7 linked regions of the Homo sapiens genome follow. The protein of the gene in region 4 interacts with the protein of the main gene of each other region in a pairwise test. Each region holds a gene or a part of one and is shown on either strand. Other genes may lie near its edges. The genes, in order: TMCO2, SCAMP1, SFT2D2, PBX3, TVP23B, RNF186 and CMTM4.

Region 1 (4,816 bases), on a different chromosome or scaffold from region 4:
ACAGGCGCCCACCACCACGCCCGGCTAATTTTTTGTATTTTTAATAGAGACGAGGTTTCACCGTGTTAGCCAGGATGTTCTCAATCTCCTGACCTCGTGATCCGCCCATCGTGGCCTCCCAAAATGCTGGGATTACAGGCGTAAGCCACCATGCCCGGCCTTAGCAAAATATTTTCACACCTATTTCATCTTTTGATTTTCACTGCAAACTGGAGAGGTAGGCAGGTCAGGCAGGATTATTATTTGCATTTAATCAAGATTGTAATAATAGATAACCATTTTCTGAATGTCTGGAAGTAACTTTGCCTTTGCATGATCTATTTATGCAGAAAAAACACAACTGGATAACTATATACCTTCTAGTTTGAACTCTGTCATTGTCCAAGGTTATATATTGGAAGTGGCAGAGCCAGGACAGGAATCCAGAAATTCACACTTCCAAGTACACTTTAGGACATAGTAGTCTGAAAAACTGGATTTCTTGGTCATGGAAAAGGTTTTTAAAATATACTAGGAGAGATCTGGGTACAATGGCACACACATATAGTCCCAGCTACTAGGGAGGGTAAGGTGGGAGGATCACCTGAGCCCAGGAGTAGTGTGCTATGATGGCACCTGTGAATGGCTACTGCACTTCAGCCTGGGCAAGATAGCCAGACCCTGTCTCTTAAAAAAATTAATGTATATATATATATATTTTATTTATATAAAATAAATTATAGGTGTGGACCACTGCATCCAGCACTTTGAGAGGCTGAGATGGGAGGATTGCATGAGGCCAGGAGTTAAAGACCAGCCTGAGCAACATAGTGAACGTAGCGAGACCCTGTCTCTACAAAAAAATTTTTAAAATTAGCCAAGCCTGGTGGTGCATGCCTATGGTTCCAACTGCTCAGGAGGCTGAGGCAGGAGGATCACCTGAGATCAGGAATTTGAGGCTGCAGTGAGCTATGATGACACCACTGCACTCCAGCCTGGGCGACAGAGCAAGACACTGTCTCTAAAACATAAAAAAAAAATAAAAAATAAAAATAAAGCATATGCTGGGCACGGTGGCTCATGCCTGTAATCCCAGCACTTTGGGAGGCCAAGGTGGGCGGATCACCTGAGGTCAGGAGTTCGAGACCAGCCTGGCCAACATGGTGAAACCCTGTCTCTACTTAAAATACAAAACATTAGCTGGGTGTGGTGGTATGCGCCTGTAATCCCAGCTACTCGGGAGGGTGAGGCAGGAGAATTGCTTGAACCTGGGAGGCAGAGGTTGCAGTGAGCCGAAATTGCACCATTGCACTCCAGACTAGGGGACAAGAGCAAGACTTCATCTCAAAATAAATAAATAAATAACAAAAGAATATGTATAGTAGGACAGATTCTTGCTAGGATAAGAAAAAAAATCATCTTGTTCCTTATTATAACAACTAGCACCACTTTTTTTTTTTTTGAGACACAGTCTTTGTCGCCCAGGCTGGAGTGCAGTGGCACGATCTTGGCTCACTGCAACCTCCACCTCCCGGGTTCAAGCAATTCTTCTGCCTCAGCCTCCTGAGTAGCTGGGACTACAGGCGCGTGCCACCACCACACCCGGCTAATTTTTGTATTTTAAGTAGAGATGGGGTTTCACTGTAGCACCACTTATTGAATATATGTGCTAAGATTTACACATACAATATCTTCTTTAATCCTCACAATACACATATATATGCGCATGCGCGTACACACACACACACACACACACACACACACACACACACACACACACATTCCTGTTCAAGATTTAGGTCAGTTGGTTTGCATTAAATGAGATTTTGGAGAAGAACTGAATTTCAAATCCTAAAAATTCGATTCAAACTCCAATTTTGCCAGCTCTTACAAACTATGTGAACTTGGGTGGGTAGCAATCAAGTTCTCTCATCTACAAAATGGAGCAAATAATCTCTCCCTGACTGTTATGCAGGATTGTGATGGTTTAAAATAGAAAGGCCCCGTGACCATGATTACTAAACAATAGTGACATATGAAAATAAGTGAATGCTAAAAAATGATCCAATAACAACTTCTCTCTGCATTTATCAAGTAAACTTGTCACTCTAAGAAAGCCGTTTTAAAAGCCTGTCACCTTAAGTTTCCACTGAACCTCAGTGCACCTCAGTTTCTTCACTTGTCATGTGAAAATAATCTCCATCCATTTCATGGAATTTTTGAGATTCTCAAAGCATTCAACTATATTGTATGTCAACTATTATTATTGGTGACTACACAGAAGTATGTAAAATCCTGTCTCTCACAATCCCAGCCAGTTAAATTCCTACTCCCCAAAGAGCTCCTATATACTTATGGAGCCTTATCTTGTCAAAACACAATAATGAACACATTGTGATGACTTAATACATATGCCTCCTTATCAGTTACAGAACAATGGCATAGTAAGAAAGGCCATACTCATGATCCTAGCTACTTTGGTGCCTATTGTATAAACATAGTAGCACTCAAAGATGAATAAGTGATCAAAAATTTTTGAGGGTAAGGCTGTCTTTTCAGGTTACCAACATGTTTGGTCTATTTTATTACAGAAGACAAGCCAAAGACCATTGTGAGAAAAGCATTTTTATGCCCAAAGCCTAATTGGTGGAGATTTTCAAGGATAACCTAGTTTTTGCCAACTTAAGAGACAAAGGTTCGCCTTTGCACATCTGCATGATCTTAAAACTGGTGGCAGCAATATGGGAGAGAACTAATCAAATTTCAATTTATAACTATATAAATGTTTGTAACAAAAGAGTATAACCTGAATTGACTGAATACTTCGTTTCCATAAGGCATATATTCCTATTCCCAATAAAATCAAGAAAGAAATCCTCAAGATGATTTGCACAGCTGGAGCAAGATTATCTAATAGTCCCAAACTTGTTTGCTGAGGTGCACTAGTCTCTCCCAAAAAACTTGCTTGTATCCAATTCCATACTGTGCTGAGAGAGAGAGACTCTAAGAGGTTGTCCCAGCTAGAAGATGAAGATGTTGACATTTTAATAAGCAGCAGCTCTAGGAACTACATGTGCAGAAGCTTCAGGAATCTAAATATGAGTTAGGGGGAGTAGTCTGGAGGCCTAGGTATTCCAGAGCCATTGTGAGCTGTGCTTTGTGATGTCACTGTTCCAAAGGTCAGCTTGCTTCCCACTCACCCAACCAATGAATCTTACTCAAAACCAACCAGGCACCGGCCTGGGTTTTCAGTTCATTCATATTGCTTTGTCTGATCTTTGGCTAGTTCTGGCTCTAGCATAGTGCTGTCCAGTACAACTTTTTGCAATAATGAAAATGTTCTTTATCTGCCATGTCCAATATGGTAACCACTAGTTACCTGAAATGTGAATAGTGCAGCAGAGATTGCATTTTACATTTTAACTAAATTTGGCTGGGCATGGTGGCTCACGCCTGTAATCCCAGCACTTTGGGAGGCTGAGGCAGGTGGATCACTTGAGCCCAGGAGTTCGAGACCAGCCTGGCCAACATGGTGAAATCTTGTCTCTACTAAAAATACAAAAATTAGCCTGACGTGGTGGTGCACACCTGTAGTCCCAGCTACTTGGGAGGCTGAAGCAGGAGAATCACTTGAACCTGGGAGGCAGAGGTTGCAGTGAGCTGATGTTGTGCTCCAGCCTTGGTGACAGAACGAGACTCCATCTAAAAAAAAAAAAAAAAAAGTTAAATAGCCACCTGTGGCTAGTGGCTTCTCTCTTGGTTAGTGTAGATCTACATTTCCAACAATTCAAATGGACAGCAGCTGTTGCAGCTGTTTTCACATAATAAAAAAAACTGAGTTGTATTGAGGTTGAATGGAAATGTGAGGAGATGGGATTTTTTATTTTTATTTTTTTGAGCTGGCGTGTCACTCTGTCGCCCAGGCTGGAGTGCAGTGGTGCGATCTCAGCTCACTGCAACCTATGCCTCCTAGGTTCAAGCGATTCTCCTGCCTCAGCCTCCTGAGTAGCTGGGATTACAGGCGCCCGCCACCACGCCTGGCTAATTTTTTGTATTTTTAGTAGAGATGGGGTTTCACCATTTTGGCCAGGCTGGTCTAGAATGCCTGACCTCAAGTGATCCACCTGCCCTGGCCTCCCAAAGTGCAGAGATTACAGGCATGAGCCACTGCACCCAGCAAGGAGGTAGGATATAAACAGGGCTTTTTTTTTTTTTTTTTTTTTTTTTTTTTTTTTTTTTTGAGGCGGGGTTTTGGTCTCGCCCTGTCTCCCAGGCTGGAGTGCAGTGGCGCAATCTTGGCTCACTGCAACCTCTGCCTCTGGGGTTCAAGCGATTCTCCTGGCTCAGCCTCCTGAGTAGCTGGGATTACAGGCATGTGCCACCACGCCTGGCTAATTTTTTTATTTTTAGTAGAGACGGGGCTTTACCATGTTGGTTAGGCTGGTCTCGAACTCCTGACCTCGTGATCCACCCGCCTAGGCCTCCCAAAGTGCTGGGATTACAGGCGTGAACCACCACACTCGGCCTTCAGTTTACCTTTAATAGTGGCATCCACCCACTCATCTGTCAGTCACTTCCACTCAGTAGTCTTCCATATCATGCCCTATTAGGACTTACTGACTTAGGCAATGCCTACTTTCAAGCCTTTGGTAAATTCTTTTTTTTTTTTTTTTTGAGACAGGGTCTCGCTCTGTTGCCCAGGCTGGAGTGCAGTGGTGCGATCTCAGCTCATTGCAACCTCTGCCTCCTGGGTTCAAGCGATTCTCCTGCCTCAGCCTCCTGAGTGGCTGGGACTACAGGCACGTGCCACGCCTGGCTGATCTCTGCATTTTTAGTA
Region 2 (4,201 bases), on a different chromosome or scaffold from region 4:
TAATAGACAAAAAACAGAAACAACTTAGGTGTCCAGCAATGGATAAAGAAACATTACTAATTCTGAAAAGCACCCAAAGCCAAATGCCAAGGAGAAGGGGATTACTGGATTGCTCTCTGGGTATAGATCTGCAAGCCTTCTGCACAGAAAGGAGAACAGGGTTTTCCACACCAGTCTACACATATGAAGTCAAACGCTGCAGGACATTACAGACTGCCTCAGTAGGAACAACTCAGAGACTTGTTACAAGGTTAAATCTAACCAAACTCCATGTCACCTTTTATATCCCACACCCACTGAAAGTTGGAAAATTCTCCCTTGTGATTTAAAAACATCTTACAATATTTGCAAGTATATTACTCCACTACACCACCAAAAACTGTAGGTCTAAATACAGGCTTAACTCTATCACCCTTTTGGCAAGAAAATGTTACTTTACACTTACGGTTTAGCAATTCTGGTTGAAACAGACAGACTCACTCAGGTCACCCCAAATGCTGGGAGCAGGAGAATATTTTAAAGATATATACAGAAAGAAGAACGCCAGGTTTCACAGAGATTGAAATTCTTCATGACATGGCACATCCCTTCTAGTTAAAAAACACCTCTAATGAAGGACAGGAATTCTTGAAAATGGCCTTCAAAAGCCTAGTGAGATAACTGCTATTCCACTGCTTTGGACAAGTACCTTTGTTAAGATCAGTCAGCTGAGGCCAGGGTGGCAAAAGTCACACCCTAGAGGACATGATCACAAATGTGTAAGCTACCATGAGGGCTGCTCCCTCAGCAGAAGCTGAGGCTCAGAGCATAGCTGGTCTCTGAACATAAAGCATCCTCTCTAGCTGAACTGATCATACTTAATTCCAATATCCAATATGGTCGATATATTAGAACAGAGAAAATGCAGGAATACCTAGTTTCACTGTACTTCACAGATATTGCCTTTTTTAAAAAAATAAATTGAAGGTTTGTGGCAACCCTGCATCAAGCAAGTCTCGCAGCACCATTTTCCCAACAGCATGTGCTCACTTCACATCTCTAGCGTCACACTACGGTAGTATTCGCAATATTGCAAACTTTTTCATTATCATTATGTCTGCTATGGTGATCTGTGATCAGTGATACTTGATGTTACTACTGTAATTGTCTTGGGGTGCCACAAACCATGCCCATAACACTGCAAACTTACTTGATAAATGTTATGTGTCCTGGCCGGGCACGATGACTCACGCTTGTAATCCCAGCACTTTGGGAGGCCAAGGCAGGCAGATCACCTGAGGTCAGGAGTTGGAGACCAGCCTGGCCAACATGGTGAAACCCCGTCTCTACTAAAAATACAAAAAGTAACCAGGTGTGGCGGTGCACGCCTATAGTCCCAGCTACTCGGGAGGCTAAGGCAGGAAAATCGCTTGAACCTGCGTGGTGGAGGTTGCAGTGAGCCGAGATCACGCCACTGCACTCCAGCCTTGGAGACAGAGAGAGACCCTGTCTCAAAAAAAAAAAAAAAATTGTGTGTCCTGACTATTCCACCAACCAGTTGTTCCCATTCTCTGTCCCTCTCCTTGGGTCTCCCTATTCCCTGAGACATTACAATATTGAAATTAGGCATCTCTGTAGGTTATCCAACTTCTGCTTGAATTTCTGCAAGTGCTGGAGAATGCCCTACCAAAAGAGCATTGTCAGGCCATGGTAGCAGATTTTTAAAAGTCTGTTTGGACAAAATTTACCTTTACCTTCAAGTAAACTTTGCCAGTTAACCTTAGATTCTTTTTCTAAAGCAACAAATAACAAGTTTATTCACTTACCTAAGAACACTTTAAGTATCTGATGGGAGCTCTCCTATTTCCCTTTAGCCCTCTGTAGACTAAATCCACTGAGTAATTGAAACTTAAATTGTTCTTCCTAGAACTTGATTCCAGTCCCATGACCATTCTGACTGTCCTCTTTGGGCATATCCTAGTATTTTCAAACCACTCTTTAAATATGCACTTGCAATTGAGAAGAATACCCAGCTATTAGACCAGAACAGAATACTATAGGATTATTAATTTTAAGGAACTGATCACTAATTTCACTAAGCCAATATATATTTTTCAGCAACTATATCACACTGGTGGTTCATATTAAGGAAATAACCAATAAATTATTTGGATCTGCATTTATCACTATTAAATATTAATCATAGTCCAAAAAAAACTTTTGGTAATATCAGCACAAGAACAGTTTACTTTCGAAATTTTCATAATCACCATCATCTCATATGACTGTAAAGCTACAGGGCCAAAATAAAACTGTGTTCAAATCTTAGTTTTGTCACGTGGCACAGCAGCCTCCTATGGCAGCAGCCTTCCCCTGGCCATATGAGATGCTCAACCTAGACAAAAGTTTTCTAAACATCTGAAGAATACCGACCATGGCAACGGACACTTCACCCTAAATGAAGATTGTCTCAAAAAGAATGACAAATGTGGTTTTTAAGGCATGGTTTGAACTCTGGTAAGATTAAAAAGAAACTGTTAAGAGAGTTGTGACAGCCTGGACTAAAGAAACAGTTCAAAATTAATAGAAACTTCTGGGCTCCCAATTTTCAATGGGCAAGAAGCAGGCCAAAAATGCTACTCAGCTGCCAAAAGGGCTCATTCTTATAGAAAAAAATAAATAAAGGACCTCTCAGAGGGTGGAGCCAAAAGCAGAAGAAAATAACAGGTGAAGGAACCAATACGAGGTAGCAGAACTGGGCCCTAATCAAGAAACATTCATTGTCCCCAATGTAGGGGACCCTAACAACACGTGCCTGGCTAGATTTCAGAACTGCTATGCATCAGCAGGTGCTACACGCCTCCCACTCTTTCCCTATTTGAATGGGAGTGTCTAGTGAAGTTATCCTACGACTACCTCGCCATTTTATACTAGGTGTATCTTCAGATCATAGGTCTGTCTCCAGTCAAGAAGTGGAGCCTATTGCTTGCCACTCCTTTTAAAATCTAGGCTGAACTTGTGCCTTGTTTTGACCAACAGAATACAGCAGAAGTAGCATATGATTCAAGAAGCCTTGTAGATTCAGCTCTTGCCCTCTGGGAGCACTGCTGCTACTATGCACAAAGCCCATTTATTACTAGTAGAGAGGCTACATGAAAGACAGCTAATTGCTGTGCCCACTGACATCTCCAGGTAACCAGCAGGCACTTGAGTAAGGATATCTGAAACCATAAACCAGGTGACTGAAGCCACTTTAGTGACTCCAGAAAAGAACATTAAAAAAAAGAAAAAACCTGCCCAGCTAAGTCTAGCGCAATTAACAGAATCGTGAGCAAATAATTGTTATTTTAAGCCATTATATTTTGGGATTGTTACATAGCAACAGATAAGTGAGACAGTGGTAAATAAGATAATGGTGCATCTTACAAAGGATGGCATCTTAAGTTGATGAAATATAACAGCAGCTCAATATGTGCTTTTTAAAAACATTAACATGAGGAAAAATGAGCAGGAATTCATGCAGTTGACATGAACGTAAAATAACACAGGCCCACAAACTGCAACCACTATGTTCCAGATTAATGTTAAAAGACAGTTTTCAAAATGTGACAATCACAAAGGAAATCCTCAGAATACTTTCCTAGTGCTATCCAATCTCCAAACTCAAAATTTTATATCTTTTTTTTGTTTGTTTTTTGGGTTTTTTTTTTTTTTTTTGAGACAGGGTCTCACTCTGTCACCCTCCCGCCTCAGCCTCCCAAGTAGCTTAGATTACAGGTGTGCACCACCACACCCAGCTAACTTTTAAATTTTAGTAGAGATGGAAGTCTCACTATGTTGCCCAGGCTGGTCTCAAACTCTTGGGTTCAAGCAATCCTCCTGCCTTGGCTTCCCAAAGCACTGGGATTACAAGCATGAGCTATCAAGCTCAGCCTCAAAATTTTAAACAGATAAGGGAGGAGTGAAATCAACTTGTAAGTATCATTGTCAAGGTAAATGAAATAAGATGGATAACATTCTTGATGTTACAAAATGAAAACTAAGGTCTGAACGTTTGTTTCCTTAAAAATCACATGCTGAAACCTATCACCAACGTGATGGTATCAGAAGGTGAAGACTTTGTGAGGTGACTAGGTCAGCAGGGCTCTGCTCTCAAGAATGGGATTAATATCCCTATTAAAAAAAGGACCCAGAGGCCAAGTGTGGTGGCATACACCTGTAA
Region 3 (4,201 bases), on a different chromosome or scaffold from region 4:
TATCACCTTCTCTAGGAAGCCCTCCCTGACTCAGGTCGTGTCGGCTGCCCCTCCTTGAGAATTTCTTTCCATATCTTGTTATATCATGAGTTATATGTCTGTCTGCCTGGCAGGGACCAAACTGGACTTGTCTTTGTATCCTCTGAGCCCAGCACAGAGTGTGATCAATGCTTACCCATTGAGCATGCAAGTCAGTCAGTGAAGCACAAACAGCCATGGGGACAAAGAGGAAGGAGCCAGTAAGACAGGGTTACATCAAGCCCTGGTGAGGAATCATGGAGGGGAGACTTGGACCCCCAGGACTCTGAAGCCATTTACAGAGACACAAGGGAAGGGAAAAGGGGGAAACAAGATGACTGAGCTCAGGTTCCTGCAGGTCATTCAGGTAGAGGCCAGGCCAGTGCTCCCAGTTGGAGAGGGTGGAGTTGTTGGCACCAGTGTGACTGAAGCATCAGTGTGAATGAGCTTGACCTGGAAAATGTGTGCATCCACAACATGCAGAATGGGCTGCCCACCTCCAGGAAGCGCTCAGATGCCCTGCCCACATGAGCTGCTACTCAGGTCTGGGAAGGTCTGACACTAAATAAAAACCAGTTTCCCTTATGGCCACTGGAGTGATGAGCCCTTTGAAAACCATCAACTCAATCTCTGACAGCAGTAAGAATACAGCAAGCAGGAGGACTGGGTTGTAAACCCTGGAGAAATCACTGAACTGCTTTGTGTCGCAGTTTCTGTACATGTAAAATCACGATGGCAAAACATTTGCTGCTTTCTCCCAGGTGTTTCAAACTAAGATATAAAATGTTTTCAAATAATAAGATATGAATGTGAGATATTCTAACTACTTCTCTCCAAATTCCTTACAACTACTGGAGCCTCCTCTTTCACCTCCCTCAAGGGCAACCAACATCCATTTTCCCATCTAATGATTGGCTAAAATTGGATTTTTAAAAAACAGTTACCTCCCAATTGATGCGATATTACCAAAGGTATAAAACACTGCGAAGAGGTGTAGTCCCTTCCTGGGCACCCACAGCAGAACAGTACCCTGGAATTTAAAGTACAGTGTTTGCACATGAGCAACCCTCCCACCCGGCCACACAAGCAGAGCTCCCAGAGGAAGCCCTGAGGAGTCCGTTTCCCTCCCCACCTCCCTTATTCCCCTCTCCTCTCATCCATGCATTTTAGTGAAGGGCAAAAGGGGAAAGGAGGTGGACAAAAGGGGGAATATATAGCAAAGACAGGTAGAAGGAAAAGACAGAGGAGGAAGGGAAATCTTACCAGCAGTGAGCAGAGAATTCCTATAGCAAAACACGCAATGAAGCCTTTTATCCTGGTACTCCAGCTTAATGAAGATGCCTCAACAACCTAAAATTGAAAAAAAAAAAATACATATACACACACATTTACTAAAAACAAAGCAAGCACATAACTAAATCTAGAAAGTGTTAAGTTGTATTAGGGAAGGCAAGGAGCACAGAATCCTACACACTCAGGCGATGTAAGTCATCAAATCCAGACTTTATCAGAGCTGTAAAGTTATTATGCAGACATGAATCTCCTCTCTAGCAGCTGACAGCTGTGCCTCCAGCTGAACATCTTCAGAGGTAGAAACTCCTTGCCTCAAGCACAACCCATTTCAAGAACAGGAAGGCAAGACAGCCAATCCTAGAGTAGCCCAGAGCCTTCCTACAACCCAGGCAGGATGAAGACCACACCTGGAAAGGCATGCGTCCACCAGGGACTCACAAGTCCACCTGGGATCCTCCACCAGGCAGGGTCCCAGGAAATAAGGAAAAGATGAGGGGACGGCACTCAAGCAGCTGCTCCACTGGTCATCGTCTCCTACATCAACTCTCACCCACATTATTCACTCTTGGTTCAGATATTGTACTTACAGGATGCTGGCATCAGCCAACTCATCCAAGTGGGAGACAGATCCTGGTTAATTAATTACTGTCCTGTTACATCCTGAGTCTTTGCCATCATGATTAATCCCTCCCTGGAGCAAAGTTCAGGGGAAGCCAGGAGTTCCAAAAACACTACTGAAACAGGAGAGCCTGTGAGTAGCTCCCAGTGGTTCTTTTCCCATGTCAAAAATGACAACAGCCAGGCACAGTGGCTCATGCCTGTAATCCCAGCACCTTGGGAGACCAAGGTGGGCGCATCACCTGAGGTCAGGAGTTCGAGACCAGCCTGACCAACATGGCGAAACCTTGTCTCTACTAAAAATACAAAAAATTAGCCAGGTGTGGTGGTGCATGCCTGTAATCCCTGCTACTTGGAAGGCTGAGGCAGGAGAATTGCTTGAACCTGGGAGGTGGAGGTTGCAGTGAGCCGAGATCATACATTGTACTCCAGCCTGGGCAACAAGAGTGTAACTCTGTCTCGGAAAAAAATGACATCAAAGTTTTTGCACTGGTGACCCTACCAGTCTGTCCACCTGATGCAAGTGGGAACAGTTGTTCCAAGCTGGACAAAGACAGCTGCCGTAAGAGACCAACACCACACAGGGCAGCTAGGCCATGTATATTCACACAGGGCTCACCTTGTATGGCCAGCATAGTCTCCATCTAGCAATGTGGTCAAAGTTTCCTACTATATTTCCACCCAGCTGATGGAAGAAGGTAGGTAGTGGCAGAAAGTCAAGAGTCATTAGACTGGCAACTCCGTCAGCCTTGACTACCCCCAGCTCAGGGATCTGTTTTCAACCCTGTCTCCAGAGTTCCCGTCAAACCAGAAGCTTGAAAAGAAGGATGAGAGGCTCCCCTCAGGTGTGGCACGTATTGCCAAAGACTACCTTACTCTCCACTCAGGAGAAAGGTATTTAGGTCAGGTTATACATTCATATATATGGAACTGGGCTCATGACCCTGCACAGAAGGCACAAATTAGGGATGATAACAGACAGCAGGGGCCCAGTGTTAAGATCTGACAGATGAGCCACCTGGTTTTACGCTGAGGTAAACCTCTCCTGGAGGAGTCTGGTTTCCCAAACCCCCTTGGACTCCAAAATGAGCCATGTGATGATGCTCTGGTAGCAGGCTTTACAAGGCCCCAGACAATCTAGTCAGGCTACTTCGGACTAAAGCATTTAAGCTCTCGCCAAGGACAGAATAAAATGAGAAGCTACCACTCTTCCTAGTCATGCAAAAACCAAAGAACTTACCTTGCCAAGGTGCGAAAAGAACTAGCTGCAGGTGGGAAGAAAAGAGCGGTAGTAGGATTGGCCTGGCTTGTTCGTAGGAAGAAGAGTGGTAGTGGGATTGGCATGGCTTGTCTGTAGGAAGAAGAACGGTAGTAGGATTGGCCTGGCTTGTTCACAGGAAGAAGCATGGTAGTAGGATTGGACTGGCTTGTCAGCAGCAAGAAAAAAGTGGTAGTAAGATTGGACTGGATGGTTCCCTGAGCACCACATGGCATCAACACGGATAATTTTAAAAGATTCAACCTTTCTATTTGAAGAGGATAAACCATAAGGTTAAGAATGAAATTTGAATTGGCTTTGACATCTAGATTGCTAAATAACCTCAACAGAACAGTGAGATTCCAGAGAATGGCCTGAACCCGGGAGGCGGAGCCTGCAGTGAGCCGAGATCGAGCCACTGCACTCCAGCCTGGGCGACAGAGCGAGACTCCGCTCAGTCTCAGTGAGATTCCAGCCCTCACACAAATCAAAATAACCACAATAGGAAGCAGTTCAGCCAAGAATGTGTTTCTGGTTTCTACCTTCAGAAAGGAAAGTGACACTCCATATCCAAGTCTCTCAAGCTGAATCCATCCAAATGTTACTCTGTTTGCCAAAATGGAAGGGGTGGGGGGCATATTTCACCACTGTATTTTTCCATTACATGTGGTTGCAAGTTCTTTTACATTCACACTTGGTCAGGGAAGGAGGAAGCTGTTGTTCCACTTCTCATAACTGGACTCAGTGAAAGCAAAACACTTCTTTTTGCCAAATTATGAAAACAAACTCATAAAATGTCTGTAAATTCATGACTGCTGGAAGCTGTGCTAGCATATTGTTTTTGGAAATTAGAGTAGCTAAAATGGTACCTGGATGGAATTTGTAGGCAATGCGCTCACAGGCAGTCTGACTGGCAGTTATTCACAAAGGTCCCTTTCACTCTGTGATGTGGAGAGAAGAGGGGCTCTTGCCAAGAATAATACTAAGAATTGTTCAGAAAAACAGGATTGGTAA
Region 4 (4,201 bases):
AAAAAACCCTGGTGATTTGATGCTGGTATAAGCTGGGGCTAAAGTTACATAAAATCTCATGGAAAATTTTGTAGGATATTTCTAAAACAGTGAGACTCAGGACCTTGTCATTGACTGACACCAGCTTCACACAACTTCCACCAGAGTGTATGGAGAAAGTAAGGAGGCAGGTGTAAAGACACATGGCAAGAGGTAGTAAGGAATCACCTTAATTCCTCAGCCAAAAAACTCAGGCCATTTGGCCTCTAATATTATATCTCTTTCCATGCAAGGTGACTGGTAGTGTTTATCTAGTAAGTAGTTATAGTTATTTTAGCATAAAGTTATACAATTAGGATTATACTACAAATAAGAGTCATTTTCTACTGTTTATGCTCAGGGGCAACCTTTTCAACCATGACTTATTTTGTTTACTCTCAATTATTCATATGTCAAATCAGAAAGTGGGATTTTTACATACATACACACGATAATTTTTCCAAAATTCTTATTTGTACATTTTCCACAAGAAGTTATTCTTACAAATGAGACTAGACATACAATTTTAGATCTCAGAAAATCCTATTCCAAAAATAGAAAACACCTTATAATATTAATTTACACTACTTTTTAACTTAAAGCTATACAAATTTTTCTACTCTTCCTCAAAACACACTCACCTCTGGGATAGGATTCAGCATTTGCTTAATACCATTGTATCCAGAATATTAGAAAAGGCAATGTGAAAAAACAACGATATATATAATTGAAACTATACAGGGAATGTAGAGGGGAAAAAATCAGTATTAAAACTGATCAGGGGTTGCCAGGGATCAGTGGGAAGGAAAGAATAAAAGAAGAGAGGGATGAATAGCACAGAGGATCTTTAGGGCAGTGAAAATACTCTGCATGACCCTATAATGATGGGTACATGCCATCATAAATTTATCCAAATCCATAGAGTGCACAATACCAAGAGTGAACCCTAATGTAAACTATGGATTTTGGGTGATAATGATGTGTCAATGTAGGTTAATCAATTTTAACAAATGAACCCCTCTGGTGGGGGATGCTGATAATGGGAGAGACTATGCATGTGTGGGGACAGGAGGTATATGTGATATCTCTCTTCTTTCCTCTCAAATTGGTCTGTGAACTTAAAACTCCTCTTTAAAAGAGTCTTTAAAATACACACAAACACACACAAAACTCACCAGGACTCCCATTTCACACTAAAGTGTGTGGACTTTAAAAAGTACTTGCCTACATAGTGAAATACTCATGGGTGAAATTATAGGATGTCTAAGACTTGCTTTAAAATACTCTTACCAAATTGGGGCTGGGTACACAAAATAAGAGTGGCAAAATGTTGATAACTGTTTATCTGGGTAAAAAGTATCTAGCTGATTCTGATTCCTTATTTGGGGTTGAACTCTATGAAATTACCATATTCAACTGTTTTTGGCCTCAAAACTTAGCAATTTCATAGGGTTCAATCTAATACTATTCTCATTATTTTTGTGTACATGTATTATAAAATGTTTCATAATACGTTTTTAAAATTACCTTCCAAATGACAAATCTTATCAAATGAGAATTCCTCAAACTTGGCAGCTTTTCAGCATTAAACTAACAACTAAAATATATGTAAAAAGACCCACCAATATTTTACTTTATTACATTAAATCTAAGACTCTCTTGTTTTTCTCCACATTTTAACATCTCTGAAATGTGAAAGCATTTTATAATCAGTAATATTTTATAGTTAAACTAGCAGTATTAATTTTTTCTTGGTGTTACATAAAGATGCAACTTAAAGTTATCTGAGATTCAGTATGGTTAATATAATTGCTGAGAACCAGATTTTTAACCCATATTCTCTTTCTAATAAGGAATTTAGCACATAATGCCTTGCCTAGCATTCCCTGTCCTGGGGTACCCATAATTATCTTGGGAGGTCTCATACTCAGAGAAACAGGCCGGAACCTGCTTACTTGGTGAAGTTCCCTATAGTCTGGCACAATCCATAAGAATTAATTCCCAGGAGGATTCTGGAGCTCACAGCATAGGAGGGAAAAGCTCACTGTGCAATGCTTCCCTTCAAAAGTGATTAAAGCTTATGAACAAGGCTAGTGCATAAATGTTAATTATACAGAGCTTTGAAGAGCACCAAGTGGTGAGGTGAGAGGGAAGAATGACTGCAGGTGTGGTAATAAGGGCACGTGAATGTGCGGAATGAATAAAACTAAAACAAGTAGATGGGATAAAATAGGTAGCGCTCCTCCTCCAAAATCTCAAAGGGTCTTCCTTTCATGAATCCAACAATTCACTTGGATTTTTGCACTGACCTTATTTATTTTGTAATTTGTGTTAACACCTACCCCTCACAGCCCTCAGAATTGGTTAGCATGGTCTAATAGAAGAGCAACAGAGGGTTTGTGTAGGACTATGAGAGTGGCGGCTGCTGACCTGTTCATATTTCTCCAGTTCTGTGTGATAGATTTGTCTGATCTGGGTCAATTTGGCTCTGTAATCTGAGTGTTCAATAGAGTTATCTGAAGAACCTCCAGAGGCTGCCGCGGCTGCAGCTGCTGCCGCCGATCCCCCACCTTTCTCAGGACCTGAAACCCCTTCTGCCAAAAGCATATTGTCCAGTCTCATTAGCTGGGGATCGGGAGGGTCCTCCTCCTGGGCTCCTCTGATGCTGAGACCTTCAAGGAAAGAGAGAGAGAGACAGAGAGAGAAGAAGCGAGAAACAGAGGACAAATAGTGTGAGTATTTTGTTTATTCGAGAAAATGATCAAACAACATCAGTGTACTACAATTCATGCTGAGAACTTCATTGTTCACATTTGATCGGTAAGTTTGAATAAGTATGAAAATTATTTTTAAGATAGTGTTTACATGCACCCTAGAATTTTAAATACCCCCCCACCGCCTCAATTTACCACAGACTAGATCCTTAGAAAAAGGTAACCCTGGCTTCCTGGAATATTTTAATCATTCAAGCTTCCCAGATTTAGATAATTTAAGCATAAAATGGGAAGAGGGTAAAAAATTGAATGTTTTAAGAAAGAAAGAAAATAATTACAGGGATATAAAACAACTCATCCAAAGGTGGTTATTCTGTCTCTCTCTGTACAGTTGGAGAAACAGAATTAAAATTCCCATAAAATAGTTAATTCACAAGCTGTAATCAAAAATTGAAAAATAAACAACATTAGATGAGCTTTTCCATCGTGTGATTTCAGAAGAGGAATACACACATTATGAGGTAACTGGCTATACTTAAATATATATATATTATTAAATGAATATTGTTAAGCAATTGCCAGCAAACTATAAAACGAGGATACTAAATACAGTATTAAAAATGTGCCATTGACATGGCAATACAGTGCTGGGCACAGTAGTCTCAATCTAATTTTGCTTTTAAATCAAGAACTTCCTAAGTGATGCCCAGTCAGCAACCTCTTCTGAGTACTATAGATCATAGCTGACAATTCATAGGTTTAATCAGGTCACACAGGCTTTCTGCCAAAATGTTTTCAACAACACAGAAGACAAAGTTTTAAAATAATTATCATGGTATAAAAAGCATTGGAGTCATGACAGCTCAAAATCAGCATTTTCATTAATGTGTAACATAATCTAAAACATCCCAGCCCAATTAACCTCTGTAAATCTGCTTCAAAGCAGGTTCCCTACACTAGTTACAAGGCTTCTTGGGGAAGAGGGGAAAAGGAAGTTGGCACCTTGCTTGTTTGTATTTGGATTCTCTTTTGAGTCTGTGCCTGTTGTTGTTTATCCACAGTGGTACACACTTTGTGTCTAGTGTAACTTACATGACATAACATCTATAAGCTGCCAAGTACTCAACTGATCACCAACTCTGATTTTATATGCTAACCTAAAGCTACCGTCAATTCTTTTAAGAACAGATTTCATTCCTAGATGCCCTGAATTACATCCATGGCATGACAGAGCTCTTGGTTGCCTTAACACAAATGCAAAACTTTAATTTCTTCCCCAAAACACTTTAAAGCTGTCACTTTCATTTAAAATTATACTTCAGAATAATTTCAACTGGATAATAAAACTAACTCACCATAATTTAAAATTTTATCTGTTGTCTATTCAGAGGCAAATAAGGTTTGAAAACTATAATATACTAAGACAATATATTCATTTAGGAGAGCAAAAAGATAACTCATAAAATGCG
Region 5 (4,201 bases), on a different chromosome or scaffold from region 4:
AATCCCAGTTACTCAGGAGGCTGAGGCACTAGAATCTAGCTTGAACCCAGGAGGTGGAGGTTGCAGTAAGCTGAGACCATACCACTGTACTCCAGCCTGGGCGACAGAGCAAGACTCTGTCTCAAAAAAAAAAAAAAAAACCTTGTCTTCTAGGTCCTCCAGCAGCTTAATCTATATGGAGGTAGGAGCGGGTAGATGTGCAATAAGAATACTCTGAGATGATTGTTCAAATGGAGATTCGTCCAAGTGCTGTGGGAACATGGGGATTTCAGAGACAGGTTTTCAGCTATTTCAGTATTTGAGCTAAAAAACTTGAAGGATGATTTGGTATTTGGTGGTGAGCAGGGCATGAGGAAGGGAAGAGTTTTCTGAGACAACATGTGAAAGGCAGGAGATGGGAGAGAGATTGTAGTGTTCTTAGAGACCATGTAGTAACAGTATTGCTTCAGTGCTCAACAGTGCTCAATGAAGACAGTGTCAGAAGCAAGTAGGGGGCATTAGATTCTGTGATCTTCTATGCTTTATGTGAAGGAGTTAAATTTTATCCTATACTTGTAGGGATGCCATTGAAAAATTTGAGCAGTAGAGTGACATGGTGTGATTTCCATATTGGGAGGATTGCTCTGGGTAATGTAAAGGAGAGGCTGGAATAGAGAGGGATAAAGGCAGGGAGGCTGGTGAGTGCCACTAGGAGAGGAACAGGATCAGGTTTGTTGTAGTTGAGGGGAATTGCAGTGAATTGAGGCGTGAACCACTCTTAGAAGCCTAAGGTTATGGGGCCGGGCATGGTGGCTCACGCCTGTAATCCCAGCAATGGGAGGCCGAGGCGGCTGGATCACAAGGTCATGAAATCTCCTGGTTAACACGGTGAAACCTGTCTCTACAAAAAAAAATACAAAAAATTAGCCAGGCATGGTGGCACGCGCCTGTAGTCCCAGCTACTTGGGAAGGTGAGGCAGGAGAATCACTTGAACCCAGGAGGCAGAGGTTGCAGTGAGTTGAGGCCACGCCACTGCACTCCAGCCTGAGCGACAGAGCAAGACTCCATCTCAAAAAAAAAAAAAAAAAAAGCCTAAGGTTGTAAAAGGAAGCAATGCTTTGGGAAGGTAGAGGATTGAAGGGGAGATTCAGGATCAGGGTTCTTAAAAAAATCTTTTTTTGCCTAATAAGTGGCCTTGAAGAAGTTTATATGCATATGCTGATTAGAAAGATTCAATAGAGGCCGGGCGTGGTGGCTCATGCCTGTAATCCCAGCACTTTGGGAGGCTGAGGCGGACAGATCACCTGAGGTCAGGAGTTCAAGACCAGCCTGGCCAACATGGTGAAACCCCGTCTCAACTAAAAATACGAAAATTAGCTGGGTGTGGTGGCACACGCCTGTAATCCCAACAACTTGGAAGGCTGAAGCAGGAGAATCGTTTGAACCCGGGAGGCGGAGGTTGCAGTGAGCCAAGATCGTGCCATTGCAGTCCAGCCTGGGTGATGAGCAAAACTCCATTTCAACAACAACAAAAAAGAAAGATCCAATAGATAGACTTGAAGATAGAAGAAAGTGTAAATACAGGGGAAAATGATGAAACAAATCCCCGAGGAGGCATGAAAAGAAGTTATTCTGAGCACAAATAATTGGTTTAGCCTTGGATAAGAAGAGGAGGAGTTGTGAGAAGGGGTCATGGAACTAAGGATGCAGTCAGATGATTTTGTGAAGGAGCCAGAAACCTTGAGATTATCCCCAGTAGCCTCGGCTTGCTCTGTGACTTGGGAGAGAACAGGTGAGGAGGACAGGTGTTAAGTTGTAGTAGCCTCATCTGCACCCTAGAGTTTTCTCAGATGGTGCAGCCTAGGGGCAGGGATGGAGGAGCTGAGACTTCGATTATTCTCTGGGTTTTTTGCCAGATGATTTGAGGAGGCGGGTGGAGGATCTGCATGTGTCCTTTTCCTAGGTTTTGAATTCCTGATGCTGTAACCACATTATTTTATCTTCTATTTTGATGAGTATGCAGCTTTGCATTGCAGTGGCTGTGTAAACACTGAATTTTGTTTTGCTTCTTGACCATTTATTTTTCCTACCAGGATAGTAATGATGACACTGAAGATGTTTCACTGTTTGATGCGGAAGAGGAGACGACTAATAGACCAAGAAAAGCCAAAATCAGGTAGGAGGAGAGAAGTTGCATGAGCTGTGTTAGTGTCCAGTGCTGTTCTGTATGTATGTCAGTGCTAGCTGATGGGAGTCAAGGCAGAGTTGTTTCAATGTGCTTGTGAATACTGCATGTTGCTAATTTGACGTTTAGTGTACGACAAAGATGACATTTCAGATTTTCTTGTGAATAATTGGCATACTTAATACTGAGTTTTAAAATCAGCAAATCCAATTATTTGAACACCTGTGTTTTTAATTCTGTGCTATTTTCCAAGAATGTACCATTTCTTTATATAGTTTCTATAGATACATTACATTTTGATTTATTGTGCACATTTCAAAATCACATAACATTTCTATTCTAAATTTAATTCTCTCTAAAGAAATTCACTTACTGAAAGCAAATTCTACTTGAACCCTGCTAAAATGCTGTCTTTTACTTTTCTTTCATCTTTCATGCCAGTCACAAAAGACCACATATTGTATGATTTCATTTATATGAAATGTCCAGAATAGGCAAATCTGTAGAGACAGAAGATAGATTAGCTGTTGCTAGAAGCTGAGGGGTTTGAAGGTAAATGGGGAATGACTGCCAGTGGGTACAAAGATTCTGTCTGGGGTAATGAAAAGTTGTAAAATTGGAGTGATGGTTGTACAAATCTGTGAATGTACTAAAAACCATTAGATTGTTTACCTTAAATAAGTAAATTGTATGATATGTGAATTATATCTCAAAAAAGCTATTAAAAAACAAGAAACAGGCTGGGCACGATGGCTCATGCCTGTAATCCCAGCACTTTGGGAGGCCGAGGCAGGTGGATCACGAGGTCAGGAGATTGAGATCATCCTGGCTAACATGGTGAAACCCCATCTCTACTAAAAATACAAAAAATTAGCCGGGCGTGGTGGCAGGCGCCTGTAGTCCCAGCTACTTGGGAGGCTGAGGCAGGACAATGGCGTGAACCCAGGAGGTGAAGTTTGCAGTGAGCCGAGATTGTGCCACCAAACTCCAGCCTGGGCGACGGAGCGAGACTCCGTCTCAAAAAAAAAAAAAAAAGAAAAGAAAGAAAGAAACAAACTACCTGATAACTTTGTCTTAATGTCTGAGTGATTTCTGAGGGCTAAGGAATTCTTTTGGTGTGATTTGAAAATAGGATTCAAATTCTAAGATACAGTTTCCTTATTTCTCCAAGAGAGATAAAATTCTTTATTATCTATTTTGTGAAAGTTTATATTCAATGAGGTGTTAAAGTCATCTGTGCATAGTGTATTTTCTGTAACTACAGGGCCTAGTCAAATAGTGGGGCTTAAGAAAAAGAGAGCTAGGAGGTTTGCTTCATCCTACTAAAGTCACCTCTTTTATTTTGACAAAACTCTTCACAGTTACACGATGGCTAAAACATTTTTCTCTACATTTGCTAGTACCTGTAGTAAAATGTAATTGCATTTCTTTCATTGTGTTTTGGTTTTCAGACATCCAGTAGCATCGTTTTTCCACTTATTCTTTCGAGTCAGTGCAATCATCGTCTATCTTCTCTGTGGGTTGCTCAGCAGCAGCTTTATTACCTGTATGGTGACAATTATCTTGTTGTTGTCGTGTGACTTTTGGGCAGTGAAGGTAATTTTGATTGTTTTTATTTTAAAATTATATTTAATATGAAAATGATGTATAAAAATATGAGTTAGCATTTTGCATTATTGTTAATCTTTTGTTACTTCAAACCTCATCTGTGTTGAAGTGCTAGATATATCAAATTGCATGTAGTTTTTTTTTTTTTTTTTTTTTTTTTCATTTTTTCCCTTTGACAATACAAGATGAGACATGCAGGTTACTGTGCTGCTGATTTTTCTGTGCCATATTCTAACCTACATCAGCTTTAAAGTCAAATAAACAAACAAAAGTGACTAGCAACCATAGACCCTACAATGTTGCTTCTAATCCATACCATGGGTTTTGCTTCAGGCTTACCTGTAGGTGTGTTGTATATAATTTCTAGATAAGGCCCCAGTGTAGTTTGTCCACAAATACCTAAAAAATACCTACCTTTTGAAAAGGCT
Region 6 (2,888 bases), on a different chromosome or scaffold from region 4:
GCAATAACAAAGACGGTAACATCCATAAAGATCTAGTTCTACCGTGTGGGACTGTGCAATAGATGGGCAGCTGGCCCCACTGTATGTGGACTGCAGTCCTTGTAACCCCGAGATTTGCTGCTAAGTCAGGGCCTAGTGGCACGGAGTGGGGAACTCCTAGTGAGGATACTGGGAGCAATTCCCAAACCCTGCCCTCTCCACCCCTCCCCATCTCTGCCAGCTAAATGTGGGACTCCCCCTGCAGCTTCAGAAACACCATCCCTTCACACACATTTTGTCTCCCCAACCCTAGGGTCAACTCCATGGGAGACCTAAACAACCAGGACACTTGCCGAGGCTAGGCTGGGCATGAGATGCTCAGTGTTAGAGGAAGCGCAGTGGGACCTCCCCGTGGACTCCAAGCTCCCAGGAGGGAAAATGTGTAACAAAGGGAAATGTGAACCAACTGCTGCCCCAAACCCAAAAAAACAAAGGAAAACAAGAAAACAAAACCAGCTACATAAATTGCAAAAAGAATGGAATTCCAGTTCTATTCTACAATGGCATCAATACTGCAATACTTTCATCAAGTTATATAAAGAAAAACCAAGAACATTGGAATAAGAGGAACAGGAGCTTCCCCCATCTTGTCATGTTCAAGTAGTTTGTGTCTGCTCCCCTAGCCACCAACAGTTTTAGCTATGCTATCCCAAGGGCAAGTGCAAGCCTGTCATCCAAGCGTGTAATTCTTGACCCAGGCTGGCCATCTCGGTTGTGGCTTGCAAGTCCCGCTGGCATGTGATTTCCCAAAGGAGCCAGTCTTAGTCCGTAACCCCTTACCCTGTTCATTGTGGAAGTCCGGGGGCCCAAGGGCAGAAAGGGCTGCAGGGATAGCCTCATCAGAGGGCACTCAGGCAATGGAAGAGATGTGGCTGTGTTTCTGCTCTCTGCAGAAGAGAGTCCTGGAGGAGGGCCAGCAGCTGCCCCGGGTGCTGGGGAGACAGCAGAAGAGGGTGGACATCAGCAGGGCCAGGGCGATGATGAAGGTGAGCACCCATCGTAAGACACCCGGGTAGATGAAGGGCCCGATGAGGATAATGAGCAAGGCCAGCAGGAGTAGGTGCGCGGCCAGGCGCCGGGCTGCCACGTGGTTTGCACTTACTTCATCCTGTCCATCCTCTCCCACCAAGCTGGGGTGTCCTGCTGCCAAGTCAGCAGGATCCACCAGCCCCTGAGGACAGAGCGATACCTCTGTGCATGGCTGGGCCAGCTGCCCCACCACCGCCTCATGGTCGCGCAGGCTGCAGATGAGGCCCCCGGGGACGGCGGTGACCTTGCGGCACAGCGGGCAGGTGATGGACCAGGTGTTGTCCTGCACGCACAGCAGGAGCTTCAGGCAGATGGCGCAGAAGGCATGCTGGCAGGCCAGCAGCTTGGGCAACCGGGGACAGCTGTAGGGCTCCCGGCACACCAGACACTCCAGGTCACATTCTGTGGAGCCAGAATGACCCCCAGCAGGGGCCACAGCGGTGGTGGTTGTGGTGGCTCCTGCGGAGATGGGCTGGGACTGTTGCAGGGTCTTGGTGCAGGCCATTCTGGGCACAGGGACCGGTGGGACACTGTCGCTCAGCACCTGGGCATTGGCAGAGAGTGTCAGCTGGCGCCGCTGGGACTTGGATGGAATCTGCCCCTCCTTTTCACTCTGGCCAGGTGCCTGTTGACAACAGCTGTCTGACACTCCTCTCTCCCAGAGCTGCCCAGCTTGTTTCTTGGCTTACGTCGTCCCTTCAGTTATTATTATTTATTTTCTCAAAACCTAGGGTTAATCAGTAACTTGCGGGTCTGGAGACTTTGAATTGCCTGATAGGAGGGCAAAGTGGGCAAGGGTCTAGTGAATCAGGACTTTCCTGTTGGGGCCAGGTACCTGGTGGGTGCCCACAGAACTGTGGCTCAAGCTTTAGGAGGCAGCAGAATCCAACTCTCTCACCCCCACTTCCCAGGTCCCTGAACCTTTTATTAATTTTTTTTATTTAACTTTTTTTTTTTTTTTTGAGACGGAGTCTCGTTCTCTCAGGTTGGAGTGCAGTGGCCCGATCTTGGCTCACTGGCATCTACAAATCTGCACAATAAACAGACAGCCCTATGAGTCGGACATAGGTGGATTGGTGGACACTGCTTTCTCAGACACAAACTTTTGGATGTCAGGATGAGTGGAAAAAAGTTTGTTTGCACTTGGAGCACATTTACAGGCAGGTGGCCTTGGAAAGAGGAGGGGAGAGGTAAGAAAAGTGAGTGGAAGGAGGACAAAGCCCAACCCAACGCAGAAAAACAAAACCACATACAGCGCACAGGTGTTTGGCACCTGCTACTGTATTCATTTCCTTAGAGCCACAGCTGTTGTATTCACAGTTACGGGTGTATGAACTTCCCATCGGTGCCCTGCTGCACACTTCACATGCCTAATCACAGGTGTCCTGTTTTGTGCTAGGCATGCTGCGTATCCAGTAGTACTAAGAACAGCTGCCATTTATTTGGGCCTACTCTAAGCCAAGCCCTGTGCCCGGGGTCCCCAGCCCCCATTTCCCGGAACCCTGATACAGCCTTGTAGGGAAGGCTGGGAAACAAGGGCAGGGTGTGGTCAGGGTAGGCTGCTGGCTGCCTGCCAAGGGGCCTTCCATGGAGCAGGACCTTGTGGAATCTACCAGCGTCCAAGGTCTGGTTGAATCAATTTCATTGGTTCATTTGGACACAACTGGCCCCAGCCGGGTGGCGTAGGCTAAGAGGACTCATGTGAGACAGGCAGATATTAGTAACACAGCAGTTAGGAAAACGTGATTTCCTTACTTTGCCCTCAAGGGCAAATGGCGGGGTGGCATGTGCACTCCCTCAAACAAATGTTTCATTCAGGC
Region 7 (4,201 bases), on a different chromosome or scaffold from region 4:
CCCCTCCCCCCTCCCTCTCCCTCTCCCCACAGTCTCCCTCTCCCTCTCTTTCCACGGTCTCCCTCTGATGCCGAGCCGAAGCTGGACTGTACTGCTGCCATCTGGGCTCAATGCAACCTCCCTGCCTGATTCTCCTGCCTCAGCCTGCCGAGTGCCTGGGATTGCAGGCGCGCGCCGCCACGCCTGACTGGTTTTCGTATTTTTTGGTGGAGACGGGGTTTTGCTGTGTTGGCCGGGCTGGTCTCCAGCTCCTAACCGCGAGTGATCCGCCAGCCTCGGCCTCCCGAGGTGCCGGGATTGCAGACGGAGTCTCGTTCACTCAGTGCTCAATGGTGCCCAGGCTGGAGTGCAGTGGCGTGATCTCGGCTCGCTACAACCTCCACCTCCCAGCCGCCAGCCTTGGCCTCCCAAAGTGCTGAGATTGCAGCCTCTGCCCGGCCGCCCATCGTCTGGGATGTGAGGAGCCCCTCTGCCTGGCTGCCCAGTCTGGAAAGTGAGGAGCATCTCTGCCCGGCCGCCATCCCATCTAGGAAGTGAGGAGCGTCTCTGCCCGGCCGCCCATCGTCTGAGATGTGGGGAGCGCCTCTGCCCCGCCGCCCCGTCTGGGATGTGAGGAGCGCCTCTGCCTGGCCGCGACCCCATCTGGGAGGTGAGGAGCGTCTCTGCCCAGCTGCCCCGTCTGAGAAGTGAGGAGACCCTCCGCCCGGCGGCCGCCCCATCTGAGAAGTGAGGAGCCCCTCCGCCCGGCGGCCACCCCATCTGAGAAGTGAGGAGCCCCTCCACCCAGCAGCCACCCCATCTGGGAAGTGAGGAGCGTCTCTGCCCGGCAGCCACCCCGTCCGGGAGGGAGGTGGGGGTCAGCCCCCGCCCGGCCAGCCGCCCTGTCCGGGAGGGAGGTGGGGGGTCAGCCCCCCGCCCGGCCAGCCGCCCCGTCCAGGAGGGAGGTGGGGGGTCAGCCCCCCGCCCGGCCAGCCGCCCGGTCCGGGAGGGAGGTGGGGGGTCAGCCCCCGCCCGGCCAGCCGCCCCGTCCGGGAGGTGAGGGGCGCCTCTGCCCGGCCGCCCCTACTGGGAAGTGAGGAGCCCCTCTGCCCGGCCACCACCCCGTCAGGGAGGTGTACCCAACAGCTCATTGAGAACGGGCCATGATGACAATGGCAGTGTTGTGGAATAGAAAAGGGGGAAAGGTGGGGAAAAGACTGAGAAATCGGATGGTTGCTGTGTCTGTGTAGAAAGAAGTAGACTTGGGAGACTTTTCATTTTGTTCTGTACTAAGAAAAATTCTTCTGCCTTGGGATCCTGTTGATCTATGACCTTACCCCCAACCCTGTGCTCTCTGAAACATGTGCTGTGTCCACTCAGGGTTAAATGGATTAAGGGCGGTGCAAGATGTGCTTTGTTAAACAGATGCTTGAAGGCAACATGCTCCTTAAGAGTCATCACCACTCCCTAATCTCAAGTACCCAGGGACACAAACACTGCGGAAGGCCACAGGGTCCTCTGCGTAGGAAAACCAGAGACCTTTGTTCACTTGTGTATCTGCTGACCTTCCCTCCACTATTGTCCTATGACCCTGCCAAATCCCCCTCTGCGAGAAACACCCAAGAATGATCAATAAAAAAATAAAATAAAATAAAATAAAATAAAAAAACACAAGACGAGTCACGCCCTAGGGCTCAGGGCTCAGCCAGTGGCCCCTGTGGGTAACTGCCAACTGTTCTCAACCCACCACAGCACCCAGCCTGGGTTCTGAGATAGAGGCCTAAGAGGCCTCCAGGGCCACAGAGCCCACTAAGAAAGGGTGACCAAAGCGGAAGAAGAAAAACAGGACAGTGTGGGGGCCCAGGATGCAAGGTGAGAGAGTATGGCAGGAAGGACAGAGTGCCCCATAGCAGACACCACCAGGATGTTGAGTGGGGTGAGAACCCAAGAGCAACCAGAGGATCTAGGAACACGGAGGCCCCGTCCCAGGCTCCTGACCAGGGGACTTTCAATGCTGCCAGACTGGAGTGGGCTGAAGATGAATTGCGGAAGACCACCACATAGTCAGGATGGTGGACTGGGGGAAGGGGCAGGGGGTGTGTTTAGCTGGAAAATACACATGGGAAGCTTTTGGGGTGTTGACAATCTCCTATTTATTGACCCAGGTGGTGGCTGTATATTAAACTCCATATTTACTTTCATAATTTTTTCAGAATTTGACAATAAGAGATTAGAAAAGTGAGATTAGGAGAGGGGGAAGTAGAGAAGGCAAGTGCAGACCTCCTCTTCTGGGAAGTGGGGCTGAGCTGGCCCTGGGCTCTGGGGCCAGTTGAGTGGGAGCCACTGGCAGGCTTTTGGGATGGGGGAGGATCAGACACGCCTTTTAGATAGCGCCACATCCCAGAAGGGAAGGGGAGGAAAGGAGGAGCCCCGTGGCACTAATCAAAGTAAACAGGGGTGGAACATGTGAGTGTATGAGCTCCTAGGACACAGAGAAAAACAAATATCGCCAGGCACGGTGGGTCACGCCTGTAATCCCAGCACTTTGGGAGGCTGAGGCGGGCAGGTCACCTGAGGTTGGGAGTCCAAGACCAGTCTGACCAACATGGAGAAACCCCCTCTCTACTAAAAATACAAAAAAATTAGCCGGGTGTGGTGGCACATGCCTGTAATCCCAGCTACTCGGGAGGCTGAGGCAGGAGAATCGTTTGAACCTGGGAGGTGGAGGTTGCGTTGAGCCAAGATTGTGCCACTGCATTCCAGCCTGGGCAACAAGAGCGAAACTCCGTTTCAAAATATATATATATAAATATATATATATATAAATATATATATATAAATATATATATATATCAAAGTCCCACAATCCATCCAAAAATAAACCCAAACCAAAAACTTGACATTAACAGAATCATTCAAATTCCATCAAATTATGCTTGTAGAAAATTATGCACTGTCCTCCTTATTTATCATTTCTCATCCATATTTATGTCAACCTGGGCTCCTGGAATGACCTGTGTTTTTAAATCTATACCAATCACACCCTATTTTAACCATCAGGCTGGCTCTGCTGGAGACAAAAATACTCCCAATACTCCCACCACCTTGTTACAGAAACACAACACAGCCAAGGCCAACCCTTCTGTAGCGAGTTGATGAGCTGAGATCGGCCGTGAGGAGCTCACTTTTTCACCCCTCTCAGAGAACACTGGACATGAGCTGCCTTTAATAGATACCATCTTGGCAGGGTGCAGTGGCTCACGCCTGTAACCTCAGCACTTTGGGAGGCTGAGGTGGGCAGATCACCTAAGATCAGGAGTTGGAGAACAGTCTGGCCAACGTGGCGAAACCTCGTCTCTATTAAAAATACAAAAATTAGCTGGGCACGGTGGCACATGCCTGTAATCCCAGCTACTCAGGAGGCTGAGACAGGAAAATCACTTGAACCCGGGAGGCAAAGGTTGCAGTGAGCCGAGATCGCACCACTGCACTCCAGCCTGGGCGACAGAGCAAGACCCCATCTCAAAAAAAAAAAAAAAAGGTACCATCTCCTCAAGTTCATGTAAGGTATATGCCCTTTTGTTGGGCAAACACACAGCCTTTATCTGCTCCAAAAGAGTGGAAAGTCTAGAACGGATCCCAAAGAACAGGATCGTGTTCTCAAGTGACCACATCACCAACACCCAACCACAGGCCCAGGCCACCACCACCCAGAGGAAAAGAACGAGTATCAACTTCCCTGGGGAGAGATGCACCTCAACATGACCGGTGACATGGTAGTGTGGTAGTCAACAAGTGGAAAATCTTTCATGATTAAAATAGAAAAAGCAGAATTCCAGAAAGCTCACTAAATAGGTATTTCTGGGCTGGGTGTGGTGGCTCACACCTGTAATCCCAGCACTTTGGGAGGCTGAGGTGGGTGGATCACCTGAGGTCAGGTGTTTGAAACCAGCCTGGCCAAGATGGTGAAACCCCATCTCTACTAAAAATACAAAAATTAGCTGGGCATGGTGGTACATGCCCATAATCTCAGCTACTAGGGAGGGTGAGGCAGGAGAATCGCTTGAACCCGGGAGGCGGAGGTTTCATTGAGCCGAGATCACGCCACTGCACTCCAGCCTGGGCAACAGAGCAAGACTCTGTCTCAAAAAAACAAAAAAAAAAACCCAAAAACAACAAAAAGTAGGTATTTCTGGGGATAAACGCTGGTATAAATTAGTAA

Evidence for each region.
Region 1: the proteins of PBX3 (region 4) and TMCO2 interact in a two-hybrid assay, tested with the Homo sapiens proteins (one large-scale study listed by BioGRID).
Region 2: the proteins of PBX3 (region 4) and SCAMP1 interact in a two-hybrid assay, tested with the Homo sapiens proteins (one large-scale study listed by BioGRID).
Region 3: the proteins of PBX3 (region 4) and SFT2D2 interact in a two-hybrid assay, tested with the Homo sapiens proteins (one large-scale study listed by BioGRID).
Region 5: the proteins of PBX3 (region 4) and TVP23B interact in a two-hybrid assay, tested with the Homo sapiens proteins (one large-scale study listed by BioGRID).
Region 6: the proteins of PBX3 (region 4) and RNF186 interact in a two-hybrid assay, tested with the Homo sapiens proteins (one large-scale study listed by BioGRID).
Region 7: the proteins of PBX3 (region 4) and CMTM4 interact in a two-hybrid assay, tested with the Homo sapiens proteins (one large-scale study listed by BioGRID).

The regions. Positions count from the first base shown.
Region 1 is NC_000001.11:40,246,200-40,251,015, reverse strand, and holds the start of TMCO2 (transmembrane and coiled-coil domain-containing protein 2), read right to left. Parts: upstream 3,080-4,816; 5' UTR 3,023-3,079; coding exon 2,786-3,022; intron 1-2,785.
Region 2 is NC_000005.10:78,366,416-78,370,616, reverse strand, and holds part of SCAMP1 (secretory carrier-associated membrane protein 1), read right to left. Parts: intron 1-4,201. UniProt on the Homo sapiens protein: Functions in post-Golgi recycling pathways. Acts as a recycling carrier to the cell surface.
Region 3 is NC_000001.11:168,228,681-168,232,881, reverse strand, and holds part of SFT2D2 (vesicle transport protein SFT2B), read right to left. Parts: intron 1,369-4,201; coding exon 1,282-1,368; intron 1,049-1,281; coding exon 963-1,048; intron 1-962. UniProt on the Homo sapiens protein: May be involved in fusion of retrograde transport vesicles derived from an endocytic compartment with the Golgi complex.
Region 4 is NC_000009.12:125,914,175-125,918,375, reverse strand, and holds part of PBX3 (pre-B-cell leukemia transcription factor 3), read right to left. Parts: intron 2,691-4,201; coding exon 2,449-2,690; intron 1-2,448. UniProt on the Homo sapiens protein: Transcriptional activator that binds the sequence 5'-ATCAATCAA-3'.
Region 5 is NC_000017.11:18,787,280-18,791,480, forward strand, and holds part of TVP23B (Golgi apparatus membrane protein TVP23 homolog B), read left to right. Parts: intron 1-1,755; exon of another isoform or gene 1,756-1,772; intron 1,773-2,073; coding exon 2,074-2,156; intron 2,157-3,616; coding exon 3,617-3,761; intron 3,762-4,201.
Region 6 is NC_000001.11:19,813,529-19,816,416, forward strand, and holds RNF186 (E3 ubiquitin-protein ligase RNF186), read right to left. Parts: upstream 1,756-2,888; 5' UTR 1,574-1,755; coding exon 890-1,573; 3' UTR 501-889; downstream 1-500. UniProt on the Homo sapiens protein: E3 ubiquitin protein ligase that is part of an apoptotic signaling pathway activated by endoplasmic reticulum stress.
Region 7 is NC_000016.10:66,630,315-66,634,515, forward strand, and holds part of CMTM4 (CKLF-like MARVEL transmembrane domain-containing protein 4), read right to left. Parts: intron 1-4,201. UniProt on the Homo sapiens protein: Acts as a backup for CMTM6 to regulate plasma membrane expression of PD-L1/CD274, an immune inhibitory ligand critical for immune tolerance to self and antitumor immunity. May protect PD-L1/CD274 from being polyubiquitinated and targeted for degradation.